4 linked regions of the Homo sapiens genome follow. The protein of the gene in region 2 interacts with the protein of the main gene of each other region in a pairwise test. Each region holds a gene or a part of one and is shown on either strand. Other genes may lie near its edges.

The links.
Region 1: the proteins of CLIP4 (region 2) and DCAF6 interact in a two-hybrid assay, tested with the Homo sapiens proteins (one large-scale study listed by BioGRID and IntAct).
Region 3: the proteins of CLIP4 (region 2) and MAP7D1 interact in a two-hybrid assay, tested with the Homo sapiens proteins (one large-scale study listed by BioGRID and IntAct).
Region 4: the proteins of CLIP4 (region 2) and TNNT3 interact in a two-hybrid assay, tested with the Homo sapiens proteins (one large-scale study listed by BioGRID and IntAct).

The regions. Positions count from the first base shown.
Region 1 is NC_000001.11:167,942,716-167,947,269, forward strand, and holds part of DCAF6 (DDB1- and CUL4-associated factor 6), read left to right. Parts: intron 1-4,554. UniProt on the Homo sapiens protein: Ligand-dependent coactivator of nuclear receptors. Enhance transcriptional activity of the nuclear receptors NR3C1 and AR. May function as a substrate receptor for CUL4-DDB1 E3 ubiquitin-protein ligase complex.
Region 2 is NC_000002.12:29,142,274-29,146,827, forward strand, and holds part of CLIP4 (CAP-Gly domain-containing linker protein 4), read left to right. Parts: intron 1-1,435; coding exon 1,436-1,672; intron 1,673-2,958; coding exon 2,959-3,094; intron 3,095-4,554.
Region 3 is NC_000001.11:36,154,503-36,159,546, forward strand, and holds the start of MAP7D1 (MAP7 domain-containing protein 1), read left to right. Parts: upstream 1-1,657; 5' UTR 1,658-1,915; coding exon 1,916-1,961; intron 1,962-5,044. UniProt on the Homo sapiens protein: Microtubule-stabilizing protein involved in the control of cell motility and neurite outgrowth. Facilitate microtubule stabilization through the maintenance of acetylated stable microtubules.
Region 4 is NC_000011.10:1,918,108-1,923,089, forward strand, and holds the start of TNNT3 (troponin T, fast skeletal muscle), read left to right. Parts: upstream 1-1,595; 5' UTR 1,596-1,655; intron 1,656-3,254; exon of another isoform or gene 3,255-3,512; intron 3,513-4,723; exon of another isoform or gene 4,724-4,749; 5' UTR 4,750-4,767; coding exon 4,768-4,784; intron 4,785-4,940; coding exon 4,941-4,954; intron 4,955-4,982. UniProt on the Homo sapiens protein: Troponin T is the tropomyosin-binding subunit of troponin, the thin filament regulatory complex which confers calcium-sensitivity to striated muscle actomyosin ATPase activity.

The sequences.
Region 1 (4,554 bases), on a different chromosome or scaffold from region 2:
TTGTAAGAGTCAAGTTTCATTTCTTTGCATATTAATGTGCAATTGATCTAACAGTGTGTGGAAAGACTACTTTTTTCCCTTTGTTGAAAATCAATTGACCATAAATGTTTAAGTCAATTTCCTAGCCACATTCCATTGATCTAGCTTCATGTCTTTATACCGAGGATTGAAATCAGCTAGTGTGATACTTTAAACTTGGTCTTTTTTTTGAGACAGAGTCTTGCTCTGTCACCCAGGCTGGAGTGCAGTGGCTCGATCTTGGCTCACTACAAGCTCCGCCTCCTGGGTTCACACCATTCTCCTGCCTCAGCCTCCCGAGTAGCTGGGACTACAGGCACCCGCCACCACGCCCGGCTAATTTTTTTGTATTTTTTTAGTAGAGATGGGGTTTCACCGCGTTAGCCAGGATGGTCTCGATCTCCTGACCTTGTGATCTGCCCGCCTTGGCCTACCAAAGTGCTGGGATTACAGGCGTGAGCCACCGCGCCTGGCCGAAATTTGGTCTTTTTTAAAAAAATTTATAGTTATCCTGGCTATTCTGAACCCTTTCTATTTCCATAAAAATTTTAGAACTAGCTTGTCAATTTCTACAAAAAGACTTGGGATTTTGTGTTGAATCTATATATTATTTCAGGGAGAACTGACATGTTTACAATATGAATCTTCTCATCTGTGGTTCTGGTTTGTCTCCGTGTATTAAGCATTCTTTGATTCTCTCAGCAGTGATTTGTATTTTTTGGTGTTAGGTTTATCCTTAAATATTTCATATTTGTAATGCTATTTTAGATGATATTTTTATTTATTTTTACTTTTTATTTGTACAAATTTATGGGTACATATGCAGTTTTGTTACATGCATAGATTATGCTGCAGTCAAGTGAGGGCTTTTAAGGTATCCATCACCTGAATAACGTTCTTTGTCCTCATTAACGAATTTCTCATCATCCTCCCACCTCCTCATTCTTCCACTCCATTATGTATCATTCCACTCTGCATCTGTGTGAACACGTTTGTTTAGAACACACTTATGAGTCAGAACATCATACTTGTCTTTGTGTGCCTGGTTTGTTTAACCTAAGATAATGACCTCTAGTTCCATCCACGTTGCTGTATATGTCATGATTTCATTCATTTTTTTTTTGAGATGGAGTCTCACTCTGTCGCCCAGGCTGTAGTGCAGTGGTGAGATCTCGGCTTACTGCAAGTTCCGCCTCCGAGGTTCACGCCATTCTCCTGCCTCAGCCTCCCAAGTAGTTGGGACTACAGGTGCCCGCCACCACACCTGACTAACTTTTTTTTTGTATTTTCAGTAGAGACAGGGTTTCACAGTGTTAGCCAGGATGGCCTCGATCCCCCGACCTTGTGATCTGCCCGCCTCGGCCTCCCAAAGTGCTGGGATCACAGGGGTGAGCCACCACGCCCAGCCTGATTTCATTCTTTGTTATGGCTGAATAGTATTCCATTGTGTATATATACCACATTTTCTTTACCTGTTCATCCATTGATGGACACTTAGGTTGATTCCATATCTTTGCTGTTGTGAATAGTGCTGCAGTAAACATACTGGTGCACATATCTTTTAGATATATTAATTTCTTTTCTTTTTGTAAAAATCTAGTAGTGGGATTGCTAGATGGAAAGATAGTTCTATTTTTAATTCTTGGAGAAATCTCCATACTGTTTTCCATAGAGGCTGTACTAATTTACATTCCCACCAATGGTATATAAGAGTTCCCTTTTTTTCACATGATAACCAACATTGTCTGTCTTTTTAATAAAAGACATTCTGACTAGGATAAGGTGATATCTCATTGTGAATTTGATTTGCATTTCTCTTATGACTGGTAATGTTGAGCATTTTTTCATATACCTGTTGGGTGTATGCTTTTGAAAAATGTCTATTCATGTGTTTTGCCTACTTTTTAATAGGATTGTTAGATTTTTTTGGTTGTTGAATCGTTTGAGTTCCTTGTGTAGTCTGGATATTAGTCCCCTGTTGGATGAATAATTTGCAGATATTTTCTGTCATTCAACAGGATTGGTTGTCTCTTCAATCTGTTATTTCTTTTGCCATGCAGAAGCTTTTTAGTTTAATTGAGTCCCATTTGTCTGTTTTCTAGTATCTTTATAGTTTTGGGTCTTACACTTAAGTCTTTAATCCACCTTGAGTTGATTTTTATGTATTAGTGAGAGATAAGAGTTCAATTGCATTCTTCTGCATATGGATATCTAATTTTCTCAGCACCATTGATTGAAGAGGGTTTCGTTTCCACAGTGTATGTTCTTGTCGGCTTTGTCAAACATCAGTTGGCTGCAAGTATGCGGCTTTATTTCTGGGTTCTCTATGCTGTTCCATTGACCTGTGTGTCTTATTTTTATACCAGTAACCTGCTGTTCTGGTTAGTATAGTCTTGTAATATAATTTGAAGTTAGATAATGTGATGCCTCTAGCTTTATTCTTTTTGCTCAGCATTGCTTTGGCTATTGGGGCTTCTTTTTGGTTCCATATGAATTTTAGGATTGTTTTTTCTAATTTTGCAAAAAATTAACTTGGTATTTTGATAGGGATTGTATAGAATATGTAGGCTGCTTTGTACAGTATGGTCATTTTAATGATATTCTTCTGAATATCCAGTGATCATGGGATGTTTTTCCATTTGTGTCATGTATAATTTCTTTTAGCTGTGTTTTGTAGTTCTCCTTGTAGGGATTTTACCTCTGGTTAAATATATTCCTAGTTTGTGTGTGTGTGTATGTGTGTGTTTATAATTTCTTTTTTCTTTTTTTCTTTTTTGAGACGGAGTCTCACTCTGTCACCCAGGCTGGAGTGCAGTGGCACAATCTCGGCTTACTACAACCTCCGGCTCCCAGGTTCAAGCACTTCTCCTGCCTGAGCCTCCAGAGTAGCTGGGACTACAAGTGCGCACCACTATGCCCAGCTAATTTTTGTGTGTGTGTGTATTTTTAGTAGAGACAGGGTTTCACCATGTTGGCCAGGATGGTCTCGATCTCTTGACCTTGTGATCCACCCACCTTGGCCTCCCAAAGTGCTGGGATTACAGGCGTGAGCCACCACACCCGGCCTTTTTTTTTTTGTTATTTGTAGCTATTGTAAATGGGATTGTGTTCTTGATTTGGTTTTCATTTTGAATCATTATTGGTGTGTAGAAACACTACTAATTTTTGTATGTTGATTTTGTATCTTGCAAGTTTACTGAATTCATTTACCAAATCTAAGGGTTTTTTTTTTTTTTTTTTTGAGACAGAATTTCATTCTGTTGCCCAGGCTGGAGTGCAATGGCACAATCTCAGCTCACTGCAAGCTCTGCCTCCCGGGTTCAAGTGATTCTCCTGCCTCAGCCTCCCGAGTAGCTGGGATTACAGGCATGTGCCACCACACCCGGCTAATTTTTGTAGTTTTAGTAGAGACAGGGTTTCACCATGTTGGCCAGCTGGTCTTGAACTACTGACCTCAGGTGATCTGGCCACCTCAGCCTCCCAAAGTGCTGGGATTACAGGCATGAGCTACCGCGCCTGGCAAATCTAAGAGTTTTTGTGGGGAGTCTTTAGGTTTTTCTAGATATAAGATCATATCATCAGGAAACAGGGATAATTTGACTCCTTCCTTTATAATTTTGATGCCTTTTGTTTCATTCTCTTGCCTGATTGCTCTGGTTAGGACTTCCAATACTATATTGAAGAGTGGTGAAAGTAGGCATCCTTGTTTTCTTCCAGTTCTTAAAGGAATGCTTTCATCTTTTCCCTATTCAGTATGATGTTAGTTACAGGTTTATCATATATGGCCTTTATTATTTTGAGGTATGATCTTTCTGTGCCTAGTTTACTAAGGGTTTTTCTTATGAAGGGATGTTGAATTTTATTAAATTCTTTTTTCGCGTCTATTAAGATGATCATATGGTTTTTGCCCTTCATTCTGTTGATATGATGTATCACATTTATTGATTTGCATATGTTGACCTATCCTTGCATTCCTGGTATAAAACCCACTTGATCATGGTGTATTATCTTTTTGATTTGGTGTTGGATTTGGTTTGCTAGTATTTTGTTGAGGATTTTTGCATTTGTGTTCATTAATCTGTAGTTTTCTTTTTATTCTGTATCCTTTGTTTTGTGTCCTTCTTTGGTTTTGTTATCAGGGCGATAATGGCCTTATAGAATAAGTTAGGGAGAGGCCTGTCCTTGATTTTTTGGAATAGTTTCAGGAGTATTGATATTACTTCTTCTTTGTACATTTGGTAGAATTCGGCTGTGAAGCCATCTGGTACTGGGCTTTTCTTTGTTGGGAGATTGTAAAAATTACTGATTAATTCTTGCTGCTCATTATTGGTCTATTCAGATTTTCTGTTTCTTTCTGGTTCATTCTTGGTAGGTTGTGTTTTTCTGGGAATGTATCTATTTCCTGTAGGTTTTCTAGTTTATGAGTATATAGTTCATTATAGTCTGTGATGATCTTTGTACTTCTGTGGAATCAGTTGTAATGTCTCCTTTTTCATTTCTGATTTTATTTGGCTCTTCTCCCTTCTTTTCTTGGTT
Region 2 (4,554 bases):
TCATTGTTATTTTATTATTCTTACTATTATTTAGGTTTTTTTTTTTTAACAGAAGTTTCGATTGTTGAATTGTATGGGAATTAACAGAAGTGTGTGACAGGTTCCAAAAAGTGGGGATATAACAAAAGTCCAAAGTAAAATATTCACTGTAAGCATAGCTTACAACTTAGCCTGGGTGTATTTTAAAAATTTTTATGTTTCCCTATTTTTCTCTCTCTGTTTTTTAGAGAGTATACATTAGTGTAACACATATCTTTATTGTATTTTGTATGTTTTCTTGAAATCTGGGATTAGAAGAGTCCATTACCATCCTAGACATCTAATAACATATCTTCTTGCCATATTTCTACTAAGGACCAACCTGACTTGAATTTTAAAACAAAAAAATGCGAAGCAATTGCAAACTAAGTGTGTTCTAAAAGCCTCGTTCATTTTTCCATGTGAATCATTTGAAGAAGATTGTATCAGTGAAGAAAGGGAAAAAAGTTTCTCAGTTAACAAAAGTATCTTTATTCTTTATATTAAAAGAAGATTACAATCTAAATTATTTCTCATGAAGTCTAAGGTTTTTGGTTAGGGAATGTAAGATGACAGATAATTCATATGATAGGGCTTTTATGATACATATACCATGCAAATGACCGTGGGGTTGTCATTGGCCATTTTATCTTGTCACAGGACAAATCCCAGGATACAGTCTTTCTGTCATAGTGAAAACAGAGCTTTTTTCTTGATTATAGCCCAGGTTTTAGTAGTATCAAAACCATAGTTTCTAGTTTTGAAATCTGAGTTACCCCATGAATGGGCAGGGGGCTGAGGTCACAGAGCCAAGAGGGCAGCTCTGGAACCATGGATCTGGGGCTGGGAAGCGTCAGTCCTGTGACTTTTGTTTCCAAGCTTGCTTTCTCATGCCTCTGCGGGCAGAATGCTCTCCGTTTAGGACCTGAGCACCGCTCCCCACATGGACGCCTTGCTTTTCCCTGCCAGAGAACCTGCACAGCTCCTCCCTGGTCTGCTTTGGATCTCTGTGGAGATGCATCTCATCAGTGAGGCCTCCCTGACCACTTAATCTAAAGAGTTTCCCCTACAACCATCTCTGTCTCCACATTTCCTATTCCCCTTCCCTGTTTTTTTTTTTTCCCTCCAGGCCACTTATGACTGTTTATTATGCCACATATAATTTACTTGTTTAATGTTGTATGGTCTATCTCTCCCACCAGAATGTAATGTTCCTTGAGGGCAGGGCTTGTGTTTTTTTCACTGTAGGATCTTTAGCACCTAGAATGGTGTCTGCATATTGTAGGCGTTCAGGAAATGTTTTTGAATAAACAAATGATGAATGAATTTAACGTAAAGTTCTTCCAACAGAAATTTTATATGACTTTCTAGTGCTCTAAGTAAGAGTTGAACATTTTTCTCTTATCTTTATTTGTAGAATGACAAAGGACAGATCCCTGCTGATGTTGTTCCAGACCCAGTAGATATGCCGTTAGAGATGGCTGACGCCGCAGCCACTGCTAAGGAAATCAAGCAGATGCTTCTAGATGCGGTGCCTCTGTCATGTAACATCTCAAAGGCCATGCTCCCAAATTATGATCATGTCACTGGCAAGGCAATGCTTACGTCACTTGGCCTGAAGTTGGGGGATCGTGTTGTTATTGCAGGACAGAAGGTACAGTAAGTAACTGCAATCTCTGAAGCCAGGGTTGTTATGTCCATGACCTATGTTCAAGGACACAGTATGGTCAGAGTTTTGAGTTTTTGAAAAAGGTTCAACATGTAGGTAGAAAGATGCTTAATGGAAAATGTAAAACTTAGATATGAATTTACTGTTAAGTTATGCTTTAAGAATATAAACTACTTGAACTTAATAAAGAAGACATCTTTATTTGAATAAAGAGTGGAGTGGAGTAGAACTCTTGAGTGAATTTAGAAGCATGAGCTAAGGGATGATCTAAGGTGGAGGATTATCTTTGCAGTCCCCTCTTTCCCCAGTGGTACTTCTCTGACTGCTGCTCCTCCATAGAAATGGAGCACAGGAGACCCTTGCTGTTCATGGGTGTTTGTCTTTGGGTTCCCACAAATAGGGCAGTCTGAGATATTATGTAACCTGGTGATAAGGATTTGTGTGGAAAAGAGGACTCCTACTCCCATCATCCAGACACCTTTTTTCCTCCCAAGCTTTTGTTTCCATATTGTATTCATTTATTGCCAGTTGCTTTTTAAAAATATCTCATATGGGAGGTTTTCTTGTTTTTTCTTTTTTTAATTATTTTATTATACTTTAAGTTCTGGAATACATGCACAGAACATGCAGGTTTGTTACGTAGGCATACGTGTGCCATGGTGATTTGCTGCACCCATCAACCCGTCATCTACATTAGGTATTTCTCCTAATGCTATCCCTCCCCTAGCCCTGTCCCTTCAGTTTTTTCTTAATATTGAGGTTAATAGGGAGCTTGGTATGGAGAATGGAACAGGGAATTCCTGCTTGGATATTGAGTTTCCCAACATAGTTATATCCCTTTTTTTTTTTTTTTTTTTTTTTGAGAAGAGTCTCACTTTGATGCCTAGGCTGGAGTGCAGTGGCACAGTCATAGGTCACTGTAGCCCCGAACTCCTGGGCTCAAGCAACCCTCCTGCCTCAGCCCCTGTAGTAGCTGGAACTACAGGTGTGTGCTACTATCCAGCTAATTAGGATTCTTATGTCTTCTTGGAAATTGACTCCCTTATTATTATTTAATGTTCTTTTTCATCCTTGGTAATGTTCCTGGCTCTGAAGTGAGAGCAAGGAACATTACCAAGCATAAAAAGGTAATGTTGAGAGAGCGAATTTTTAAAATTCACTTTGAGAGAGTGAATTTTTAAAAACTCCCATGGTGAAGTAAAGTTGCAAGAGTAGGACCCTTGGAATTACTAATAATTCCCCAAAATTATTCTGGTTTATATTTTCTTTAGGTTGGTACATTAAGATTTTGTGGAACAACTGAATTTGCAAGTGGGCAGTGGGCTGGCATTGAACTGGATGAACCAGAAGGAAAAAATAATGGAAGTGTTGGAAAAGTCCAGTACTTTAAATGTGCCCCCAAGTATGGTAAGGTTGATATTATTTAACTCGGTAAGAATTAATTAAAAATAATCAAGTTTTACTCTTTTACAGTTGTTAAATAAAACTTTTCTCCTGATTTCTTATGTGATAAATGAGGGGCATGTGGATGTAGGGAGGACTTTTTAAAGATAGGAGATAGTTATATTTATTTACACTGACGAGAGGCGACGTGAGAGGGAGAAATGGTGGTTGCAGGAGAGAAAGGGGACATTTCCAGGAGGAAAGTCCTGAAAAACTTGAAAGGGAAAAGGATTTCAGTATAAGAGTTAGCCTTGCATTAGATCAGGCGCAGCTTTCCACTATTTATTTATTTGTTTGAGACGGAGTCTTGCTCTGTCGCCCAGGCTATAGTGCAGTGGCTCGATCTCGGCTCACTGCAACCTCTGCCTCCCAGGTTCAAGCGATTCTCCTGCCTCAGCCTCCCGAGTAGCTGGGATTACAGGCATTTGCCACCATGGCTGGATAATTGTTGTATTTTCAGTAGAGACAGGGTTTCGCCATGTTGGCCAGACTGGTCTCGACCTCCTGACCTCAGGTTATCTGCCCACCTTGGCCTCCCAAAGTGCAGGGATTACAGGCATGAGCCACTGTGCCTGGCCAACCATGAATTTCAGAGGCCATGATGGAAAGGTTTAGGAGGGTGTCTGGTAGTGACTGGTGAAGAGGGCATCTGATGGAATTGTCTCAATGATGTTTTTGGGAAAGTGTCTTTCTTGGGACTGGTCTCTTGGGTGGCTTTTAGTGGGGAGACAGTGATGAGAGGGGTTTTTTCGTTAGTAGGCTGTGAGCTGTTGGGCTGCCCTTGATTCTTGCTGCCAGCAGTATAGTGATTGGGAGAAGGCCTCTGACCAGGGGCACGCCCAGCTCTGCAGACCTCCCTCAAATCCTGCACCTAGTAGTGTTGTGGCCAAGGGAGGGACTTGGTTATCAAGGAAGTACAGAGCTCTGGAGGTCATGAAGAACTTGGAAAACTGGAAAAATCAAGCAAGGCCAACTTTATGACCGCATTCCTGAGGTTTCTTTGAAACTCTGCGAGGTTTCTTTCTCTTTCTGACAAATGTTTAAGTAAATTCTGACAAATGTTTAAGTAAATTCTTTCTGACATGTTTAGGTAAATTTATTCTTCCTCTCTCTCACACACACCTATCCTGTCTATTGATTTCAATTTGATTTTGTAGTCACTTACTATGTTGTGAATACTTTTCCTTGAAATGAAATATTCTTTTAGAACATTGTTTTCCACGATTGTGTAGTATTCATCTTGTGGCCTGATGGTGAGGTGGTGTGGTATGATGATGATGATGAAGCGGATGGACTTTGGAGTCTGACTGCTTTTGTGTGATTCGATTTCTTTACTTACCAGCTATGTGACTGTCTTTCTCTTCTTGTGCCTCAGTTGTCTTCTGTGAAATAGGGATGACACTATCATAAGGACTAGTGCAAGA
Region 3 (5,044 bases), on a different chromosome or scaffold from region 2:
GAAGAGGCAGGCTGTGAGGCCCCTGACCTCACAAAGGACTGTCATGAACTCCGTCATCCCCGCAGTCCCCCCACCCTGCAGATAAGATGACTGACACAAAGATGGGGGATCTGCTCCTCGTCCTTCCACTTTTACTCATCAATGCCTTCATCACCATTATACTTGTTTACTGAGCACTTCCTAGATGCCAGGTTCTGTGCTCAGCACTTCATTTCCATTGCCTTATTTAATCTTTACAAAGACCCCAAGATACCTCATGGCACTACTATTTTTCTGATTTTGTAGGAGAGCAAATTAGATTTTAGAAAAGTTAAGTCACTAGCTCAAGGTTACTGGCTCCAGTTGCCGCCCTTCTATCATCATCCTTTTCTAATGTTTTTGGGCCAGAGGGGACACTATTCCCTTCCCAGGCCTTCCCAAGAGTGTCCAAGCCCCCAGATACGCACACATCCCAGGACAGGCTGCTCCCAGGTTGCCTGAGCCCCTGACCCTTTTGTTTCCCACTCTATCCCTCCAAATGGCCGCTTTCTGGAGCTGCTTAAAGGAAGGAGAAACTGGAGGGAAGGGGGGCAAGGGGGACAGTATCTCACTGGGCCTAATCTCTGGACAATGAAGAACTAGAGAACTGACCTTCTAGAAGTCAGGACAAAGGGCAGGGCCAGGGTGGGCAGGGCACAGCTGCCCCTCCTCCTCCCCCGCAACCCAAGTCCCTGCAGCAGCACCACCATCATCCATCCACCTTCCCAGCAAGCTCCCCACTCTGCCCCGGGCTGGGCCTGGCTTGGCTTGAAGCCCTCACCTCAGCTGGCACCAACAAGGGGGCTGGGAGTCCATTCTGGAGGGCTGGGAAGCAGGGCTACTTTGGGGAGTGGATTCTGGAGGGGGTCACCACCCCCTCATCGACAGACCACTGGGAGAAAATCCTTCTGGGGTGATTGGCGGGGTCGTCTGGTGGGGGTGGGGGAGGTCCAGGGCTAGGACCACCCAGTTTGGAGCCGGGAGGGACCCAGCAGATTAGAGACCTGGGTAAGGCAGCTGCGCAGGGCTGTAATTACCCCCAGAGGAGCAGGGAAGACACAAGCGCAGAATGCCGGAGCAAGGGCGGCAGCAAGGCTCCCAGACCTGTCCCCAGCCCAGCCATCAGCAGGGGAGAGAAAGCGAAACCCTTTCAGGGGTCTCCTTGTGACTCTCCTTCATGCCTCCCGACGTCCCCCGGGCCGCTTTGGTTTAGGTGGGTTTGAGCGAGAATTTGGACTCGAAGCTGCCCTCTCAGCCCCAGTGCCAGAGCCCCCAAACTCCAGGGTGGGAAAGGGGAGTCCCAGCCCTGCTCCCCCTCTCCCCCAGTCCCCGCGGCGGGTGAGTCACCCGAGCGCTCCCTACTTAGTCCTCAGGCGCTGCGGCGCGTACCAAGACGCGGACGCAGGGGGAGGCAGCTAGCGCGGCGAACTCCTGGAGCCGTGGAGCCCGCTCGGCCGTGGCCGTGGGAGAGGCGCCGGGAGGCTGCGGGCGCGGGGCTCCGGGGCGGGGGCGGCGCGAACGGCGCGGACGGCGCGGGCGCGGGGGGCTGGGTCCCGGGGCGCTGCTGGGGTGGACCCCCCCGCCTCGAACTTGGTACGCGCCAGCGAGAGGCCAGGCCCAGCCCGGGCGGTACAATAGGGTTGGGCCGAGGCCGGGACTGGGCCGGCGCCGGGCGGGGAACGGGTTCGCGACCGCAGCCGAGAGACCCCGGGCGACCGGCACCTCCGAGACTCGCGGGCCACCTGCCTCGACCTTCCCCGGAGCGCCCCCGCCTCCGAGTCGCTACTTGCCGGGCCGGGCCGGGCCGGGCGTGATGCGCCGCGGGACCCCTGTCCTGGCCACTGGCCGCCGCCGCCGCCGCCGCTGAGACCCCGAGACCCCCAGTGACGCCGCAGCCATGGAGAGCGGCCCGCGTGCGGAGCTGGGGGCGGGCGCACCCCCAGGTATGCCGGGAGCCACGCGGAGGCGAGATGGGGGTAGATGGAGGGGCTGCAGGGCGGCCGAGGATGAGGCCGGCCGGCTGGGCGGGGACCCCTCCGCTGCCGCGCCCTCTGACCACTTGGAAGTTTAAAAATAAAGGCTGCGGCGGCGGCGGCTCCAGGCTCGCGATGCATCCTCTGACAGCTGCCCCCTCCCCCACCCCGGGTGCCGGACGCATCGGGCGTCGGGAGCCGCAGGGACCCCGCGCGGGAGTTGTTGGGGTGACCCTTCTGCCCCAGCTTAGTGCCATCTCAGCTTCCCCGCCCCCACGTCCCTTCCCGATTCACCCCGGGCCTTGAAGATCCTCTTCTACTGAGCTAGGGCTTCCGTCCCCTTCCCCATCCCCCGTGGCACATGTGACCCCAGCCTGAGTGTGTCGGGGGTCCATATTCTCAGGCCTGGGCCCTGCATACCGACGCCTCGGCCTTAGTGCCCGTACCCTCAGGCCCTGGCCCAGACCTCGCCCCCACCCCATCCGTCCAGCTGCCGCGCAAAGGGCCTGTTGCTGCTGCGGGCCGGCGGGGAGGGGAAAGGAGGGAGGGGAGGAGAGAGGGAGGTCTCTAGCCGCTGCTGCCAAGTAACCCGCCGGATAAAGGCGAGGGGGAGGGGGAGGCGGCATTGTTTGGGGTGAGGGCGGGAGCTGGGGAGTGGGCCGCCTCCCCTGCAGCCAGGCCTACTCTGGAGCCCACCCAGCCTGATTCGGGGAGGAGGGGGACAGAAGTAAATCTGCTTCTCCTGCCTGCCCTCCTTCCCAGCCTCTCTGGGCCCCAATCTCCCACTAGAGAATGAGGTAAAGGCTCCAAGCCGGCACTCCCTGGACCTGCCACATCATTCCCCAGCCTGAGGCTTTGATACCTCCCCCCTTACTCTCTTTTTTTCTCTCTTTCTGCCCACACCTTAGACCACCAAAGCTCCCCTCCCCTCCCTCACCCCACCAACCACCAGTGCTCAGGACTTCTGCAAATCCCATTCGGATCTGGGAGCAGCTGATGAGGGGGTGGGGACAGGTTTCTGGTTGGGCTTGGTTTTGGAGGGAGGCGATTTCTCTTTCTTCCTGGAAGGGGAGGGAAGAACATGATTATTGAAGACCCAAGTTCTGTTCCCATTGACTCAGGGGGGAGGTGGCCCCATCCCCACACCCCCATGGAGTCCTGAGCCTAATCCTGTCACCTCCCTGCCCCTTGGGGTGTGGGCACAGGATGAAACAGTTCGTGTGGGTGCGGAGAGCCCAGGATAAGGTGGGGCCAATGGGCTGTGGGTGGGCTCCTCCCCATGCCAGCGAGGATGCTTCTAGGGGACTGTCTGGGTGTGGGACCTGGGAGAACAGGGAGGGGAGGCTACCATCAGACTGGTGGGTTTCAGGAGGCTTGTAGGCTGGGCTGGAAACAAGGGTGGCTGGGTCTGTCCTGGTTTGGCTGAACCTGAGAGGGGACACCCAGGGAGGCCCAGCCTGAGTCCAACCTCAGCTTACTGGCCCTCTGCACCTGAGGGCCTCTGGCACTGGATAGTTGGGGGCCTGAATGGGGGTGGTGACTGGGATACAGAGCCTGAGCTGGTGGCTAGTTTATAATTAGGATACTTGGGTAGGATGCCTAGACTGAATATGAGAGCATGGGTGAGATGCTTGGCTCTCCTAGGGGCAGGGGGGATGTTCGGTGGGCGGGGAGGGCTGCGTCAGGGGCCGGTGGGCAGACTGCATATAGGCTTCTTGCATTGAGAGGACTCTTCTATACACAGGGATCTAGATGGAGTCACATGAGAACCTGGATCAGGATGGTGGCAGTTCCCCACACAGAATAGTCAAAGGTGACAGGAGTCCTCTGTGGGGCTTTCTGGGAGTAAATGTGCTCACAGCATGTGCCCTGTGATAGTCTGAGGCATGGGCCTGACACTCCGAGAGCATGTGACACGAACCCTGCTCCCTCTGAGTTCCTTTTTGCACTTGGACACTGAGCAGTAACAGGGGGTGGTGTGGAGTAGAGGACAAGTGTGGGGACCACTTTCAGGTCAGAAAACCTGGATGGAAATCCCAGTTAGCCATGTACTGGCTACTGGACTGGAGCAAGTGACTTACCTCCTGGAGCCACAGTTTCTGCCCCTGGAAAATAGGGGCAGTGTTGTCAACCTTGTGGGGTTAATGTGAGGGTTAGAGATGATTTAACTCAAGGAATCTGGCACGCAGACACCAGACACCTGCAATAAAGTGTTATTACCATTATTGTGGTTATGCTTCTGCAACCGGTGCCAGCAGGGAGGTATGAAATATAGGGGAGGGTGGGAGCAGGAATTGGAAGTCGATTTGTTTAAGAGTGTAGATTTTGGAATTAAACAGTTTAAGTCTCCACTTCGTAACTTACCTCTGTGTGACCTCAGTAAGTTGCTTAACCTAAGTCTTAAGTTTGCTCATCTGTAAAATGAGAATAATGCTAGAAATTATCTCATAGAGACATTGGCATCCTTAAATTAGATGAAAACAGAAAACACTTAGACTAGGCCCTGGCACATAGCCAGTGCCCAATAAGTGCTAGCCATTTGTTATTTATTTATTTATTTATTTATTTATTTATTTATTTTGAGACAGAGTCTTGCTCTTGTCACCCAGGCTGGAGTGCAATGCCACGATCTCGGCACACTGCAACCTCCGCCTCCCAGGTTCAAGCGATTCTCTTGCCTCAGCCTCCCGAGTAGCTGGGATTACAGGCGCCTGCCACCGCGCCCGGCTAATTTTTGTATTTTTAGTAGAGACAGGGTTTTGCCACATTGGCCGGGCTGGTCTCGAACTCCTGACCTCGTGATCTTCCCACCTTGGCCTCCCAAAGCGCTGGGATTACAGGCGTGAGCCACCACCCCCAGCCTAGCTATTTGTTTTTTGTCATTATTTTTAATTCCGTCAGAAGCCTGAGATGTGATTGATTAGAATTGTAGGAGGTAAGTATAGGACAAGAAGGCAGCGGAGAGGGGAGTTCTAGGCAGACATGAGCTAGGGTGTATCCAGGGAACGGAGGGGCCCCATACCTGAAGTGGAACAGTGGGAACAGGAGAGAAG
Region 4 (4,982 bases), on a different chromosome or scaffold from region 2:
TGGGCAGGAAGCTGGTCACAGATATCCAGGGGCCAGGGCTGTTTGTGGCCCCCAAAGCCTTGCCCATCGAGGACATGGACAGGGAGGGGAAGGCGTGGAATGCAGACGAAGCCACAGACCCAGAGCAGGAGGACGGCGACGTTCCCAGCAACCCCAGCTCCAAGAGCCTTCCCAGTGCCGGGCACTCAGCGGGAGGCAGGCAGGGGACCGGCCCTGTCCTTTGAAATGGCAGCCTGGGGCCAGCCCGCCTTGTCGTGTGACCCCAGGCACACCTTGCCTGTCCCTGGGCTCTGCGGCCTCGCTCTTCCATGGAGGGGTGGAATGAGGTGCCAACCACAGCCTTCCGGAAGGCCCCCGACCCGGCCCCAGGGCACTGTGAGCCCCTGCCGGGTTATCCTGTTGTCCCTGACTCTAAGCCTGGGGAGGACAGGGACCTCATCTGTGCCTCTCGGGACTCACCCCTGTCCTGGGCGCTGGCCAAGAAGGAACCAATCTGTGCCTGAACCGAAGAGTTCCGCAGACACCACCGCCCACGCTCAGCCTGTGGGGTCTGAGGGGAGTGAGGGGGTGGGTCAGGGTGCCAGACTGCTCTCCCCCACCTGGTGCCTCAGTTTCCCTGATCCAAGAGGCAGGGTTATCCAATCTGGTGGCCTCACTGGCCAGCATACAGGCCATCAGAGGCCAGGAAGGATGTCTGCTAGTCGGACGGTGCCACCTGGAGTCCTGAGGAAAGAAAACCAGTCTCCACACGCCACAATGAGCCTGTGGGAGATGCTGGCACAGATGGTAACGGCCACTGCGAGTGCCCAGGGTGGGGCCCCAGGGTTAGAAAGGGCCTAGAGGGAGGACCCAGACCCTTACCCAGCAAACTCCATGTGTAGCCCCCTGCAATGGCAGCAGCCCCGGGGGGAGGTATGGCAGACTCGGACTGCAGCCAGCCTGGCCATGTCCCTCGCCCGCTTATTGTGTAGGCCCCAACGGTGTCTAGCCAGGAAAGCAGAGCTGGCCTCTAAGAGGGTCTCAGATAGGGTGGGGGCCTGGCCTCAGTTCCATGGGGGGTCTCCGAGGCCTCAGGCTGCTTCCTCCCCGGGGGAGACAGCGAAGGGCCTGGGGCATTGGGCCGGGCGGCGGGAGGGGACCCCGGCTGTGCGGACCCTTTTCCTGGACAAATGTTTACTCCCACAGAACATCTCAGAGAGAAGGGGCGGGGGGGTGGGAAACCCGGCAGCCTGGCTCTGGGGACCCCCACACTAGTTTGGCCCAAAGAGAGCCTCGGCTTGGTGCCCCGGGGCCACCCAACACCTTCCTCCTCCCTCCTCAGCCCATCCAGAATGTACCCGCTGCTGGGAGTAAAAATAGCAGCTGACACCTCCTGGAGGCGGAGGGAGGACCTTGCCTCCTTCTCCAAGCACGTCCTCTGCATCCTGGCCTCCTTCAGCCTCCTCCTCTGGCCATTCCTATACTTGGTAAGGGGCCTGCACGGGCATAGCCCCCCCCAGCAAGACTCCGCACACACCCCGGCCACCCAGTCACTGGCCAATGGGCTCCTAGGAAGATCAAATGTCACTATAACACGAGGGTGTGAGCCGGGCGCCAGTGCCTGCAGCCGGTGCTGTCCACAGGGAGCTCCAGCCCTTCTCACACTCGACCCGCAGGTGGGTATAGGCAGGAGCGGCCACCCAGGACTGGGGCCGACGGGGCCTCCTGCGTGCGGGTGGACAGCCCCTCGTTCCAGGGACACTCTGGGGTCCTGGGGCGCTGAGGTCCCAGGTCCGTGTGGTGCCGAGCATCTCGAAGCATCATGGCTCGGAGCCCCCAGGTGGCTGCTCCAGCGTCCGGAGAGTCTGGGATGCGGACATGGTGGTGTGATGGTCTCAGCACCGGGAGGATGCAGAAGAAGGCAGAGTGTGGGAGGCCAGGAGGGGGCAAGTCGGGGCTCAGGGAAGCTCAGTGCTAGGGAGTGGCCTGAGGGCAGGAGGCAGAGAGGTGCGGGCTGTGAGCGGCAGGGAAGAGGCTGTGCAGGGGTGCTGCCAGGGCTTAGGTTGCCAGCTTGTGGTCGCCATGCAGACATTTGCCCAGGCCCGTCCTGGCCTTGCCATGCAGCTCTCGCACCTGGGCCTCCAACACCGCCATTTTGTAGAGATGAAAACGAGGACAGGAGGGCAGGGGCTCCTGTATGGCCAGCCCGAGTGTGTTGGGGTGGGGGCGTCTAAAGCCCACGCAGCCTTGGGGGCCAGCGTCTGGAGGTGCAGGACAGAAGTGGACAGGGGCTGGACTGGGGCAGGACGGGGCAAGAGTGAGGGGCTGGGCTTCATCGCGTCCCCCTGGCTGGAGGCTGGAGAAGCTGGCGCTCGTAAGAGCCCCCACCCACCCTCCCTGCCCTGGACACGGTCCCCCTGACTTGTGCCGTCTGATCAGGCCTTGGCTGCCCCTCCTGAAGTCCACGGAGGGACATGGGGCAAAGCAAAGGTTGGCTGGGTGGAGAACAGGTCTGGGGGCATGGTCAGGGCCACAGCAAGCAAGGGGCAGCGGCTTTTGCCTCCCCACCCTGCCCTGGCCCCGTCACCTCCCAAGGAGGGAAAGGTGATGCATACGTGCCCGAAGAAACTGACCGCATAGGTTATTTTCACGCAGCCCCTCCAAGGCAGGCACTAACTGGACACCTGCTTTGCGTCTCAGCTGTTGAAATGCCATCCCCTGCCCCCAGCACACCCCTGCCCCCAGCACACCCCTGCCACCAGCCCCTCCCCGCAACAGAGGCAATGACACAGGCCATACTGGGGGGAACAGAACAGCCTTGTGTTGCTTCCAGGCGCTCAGCAGAAAACCAGGTGCCTCAGTTTCCCCACTTGGAGAGTGGGCCTTTCCAGCGCACGTCGGGGGGCCTGGAGGTCACCCTGCCTGAGGGTGTTGGGGCACCCATGTGACTCTGGCCTGGGGGGACAGGAGGGAAATATGAGGAGCTGGGGAGGGCCTGGGTGCCCGAGGGTGAGGGGGCAGCTGTGGGCCAAGGAGGGCTGGGCTGTCACACCCGCCTCACCCACGTCTTGGGTTTCTGGGCAGAAACGTCTTGCCTATTTCTGGACACCTCAGCTGCCACTGGCTCCTTATAAATAACCCACCCCAGGCGAGGGCCACGCTGCCCCCATCTTGTGGCAGCCGACAGGTGTCTGCCCCGCCAGCGTCGGGCTGGGCACAGCAGGGCGGGGCCAGGCTCCGCTCCCTCCCTTCACTGACCCTCCTCCTCCTTACAGAGGATGGCCCTAGAGGAGTCTGTGGCGTTTGGGGCCTGAACCAGCTGGGAGGACAGCACGAGGGGCTGGTGGGCAGCCTGGGACTGGGTCACACCGGGGGCCTGGACAACACTGGCTCGTGGGGCTGAGGACTGAGGAGAGCCTGGCCCAGCCGTGGCAGTTACAAGAGGCTTAACCTGAGGGGCAGCAGAGTCTCAGGAAGAGATTCTGGGATAGGAAAAAGCTACCCCCGTTGCCTGGAAGACAGCTATCTGCTGGGTAATTTTGCATGGAGCTTAAGTTGCTCTGGGAAAATTAACATTCTTGACAGAGGGTTTGGAAAACGGTTCCCACCTCAGCAGTGCAACGTAGATGCATTTTTAGCTGATGAACGTGTGTTTTCCTTATACAACACTCCCAGGGGGGACCGTAGCTATTGTCTTCGAGTAATCTGTACTGTGTTGTAATGAACTTTGTTTTCTAAAACCCTGGCCAACATGCCGGTGCAGCTGCTCAGAGCCTCCCCAGGCCTGGCCGCCCAGTGTGCACGGTGGCCAGCTCACAGAGAGACGGTCCCCAGCATGCTGGCCTGGCGCCACCACCGCACATGGACAGGGCAGCCAGTCCTGGGCATGGAGCTTCCCCTAGACAGGGACAGATCCAGAGCATCCCCGGGACCAGGGAAAGCGGCCACAGGGAGGGAAATGGGGGGGCTGTTCTGTGGGCTCCTGCAGTCCAAGTATGCCTTGTACAGAGCCCGGCCCGGGGGGGTGCACGGGAAGCGGCCCAGACCCAACCCAACGTGCTCTGGGGCTCAGCCTCAATGTTTTCAGGGTACAGGGGTAACAAGAAGGAACAGCTTCCCTGCTCTGTGATCTTGGAGGAGGGGTCCTCAGAGGGGTGTGGTGGGACACACTCTGGGCACCCCATAGGAAAACAGGCACAGAAGGGAGCTTTGGGCTCAAATAGGGAAGAGGGGTTCTCATGGGGAATGGTAGGGTGAGCAGATTACTCATCTTGGGGAGCCAGTCTCGGTCATCCAGGGGCTCCCAGGGAGACCCCACCTACACCCACTGGGCAGAGAACACCCAGAGACAGGTTTCAGCTCCATCAGCGGGACCTTTCCAGTGTCTAGAGCGGGCTGGACGGCACACGGCCTGCATTCTGGATGACCCTCCTCAGGGGACGCCACGGAGAGGATGTCTGCCCTGGGTGGGGGTGGACGCCACGACCTTCCAACATCCCTTCCAGCTCCAAGATTCCAAGCTCCAGTCTGGAGCCAGGGCAGGAAGAGGGGACAGAGTCTGGGGCGCCAAGAGCTGGGAGGGGCCAGGAGCCCTGGAGAAAGGGGAGGCCCAAGGAGGTGGACTCACCCAAGGCCAGAGCTGGCCCCCAAACCCTGCCCGCGGTCCCCCACAGCGCTGCTCCAAGACCCCATCCCCCATCCTACACCCAGGCAGCTCGTAACTCTCTTTCCATCCTCTCTCTCTCTCTCTCTCTGAATCTCTCTCTGCAGAAACCACCCACCTTCACCATGTCTGACGAGGAAGTGTGAGTACCCAGCTGGTGGCTGCCCCCTGCCTGGCTCGGGACCCTGGCCCCTTGGCTTCTGTGGGGCTGGAGCATGCGCTATCTTGCACAAGTCCAAGCAAAGCCCAGCCTCACTACCTCTCTCTCTTTCTTTCTCTCTCTCTCCCTGCCCCACAGTGAACAGGTGGAGGGTAAGTGTAACAGCCATTTTCTTTCTAC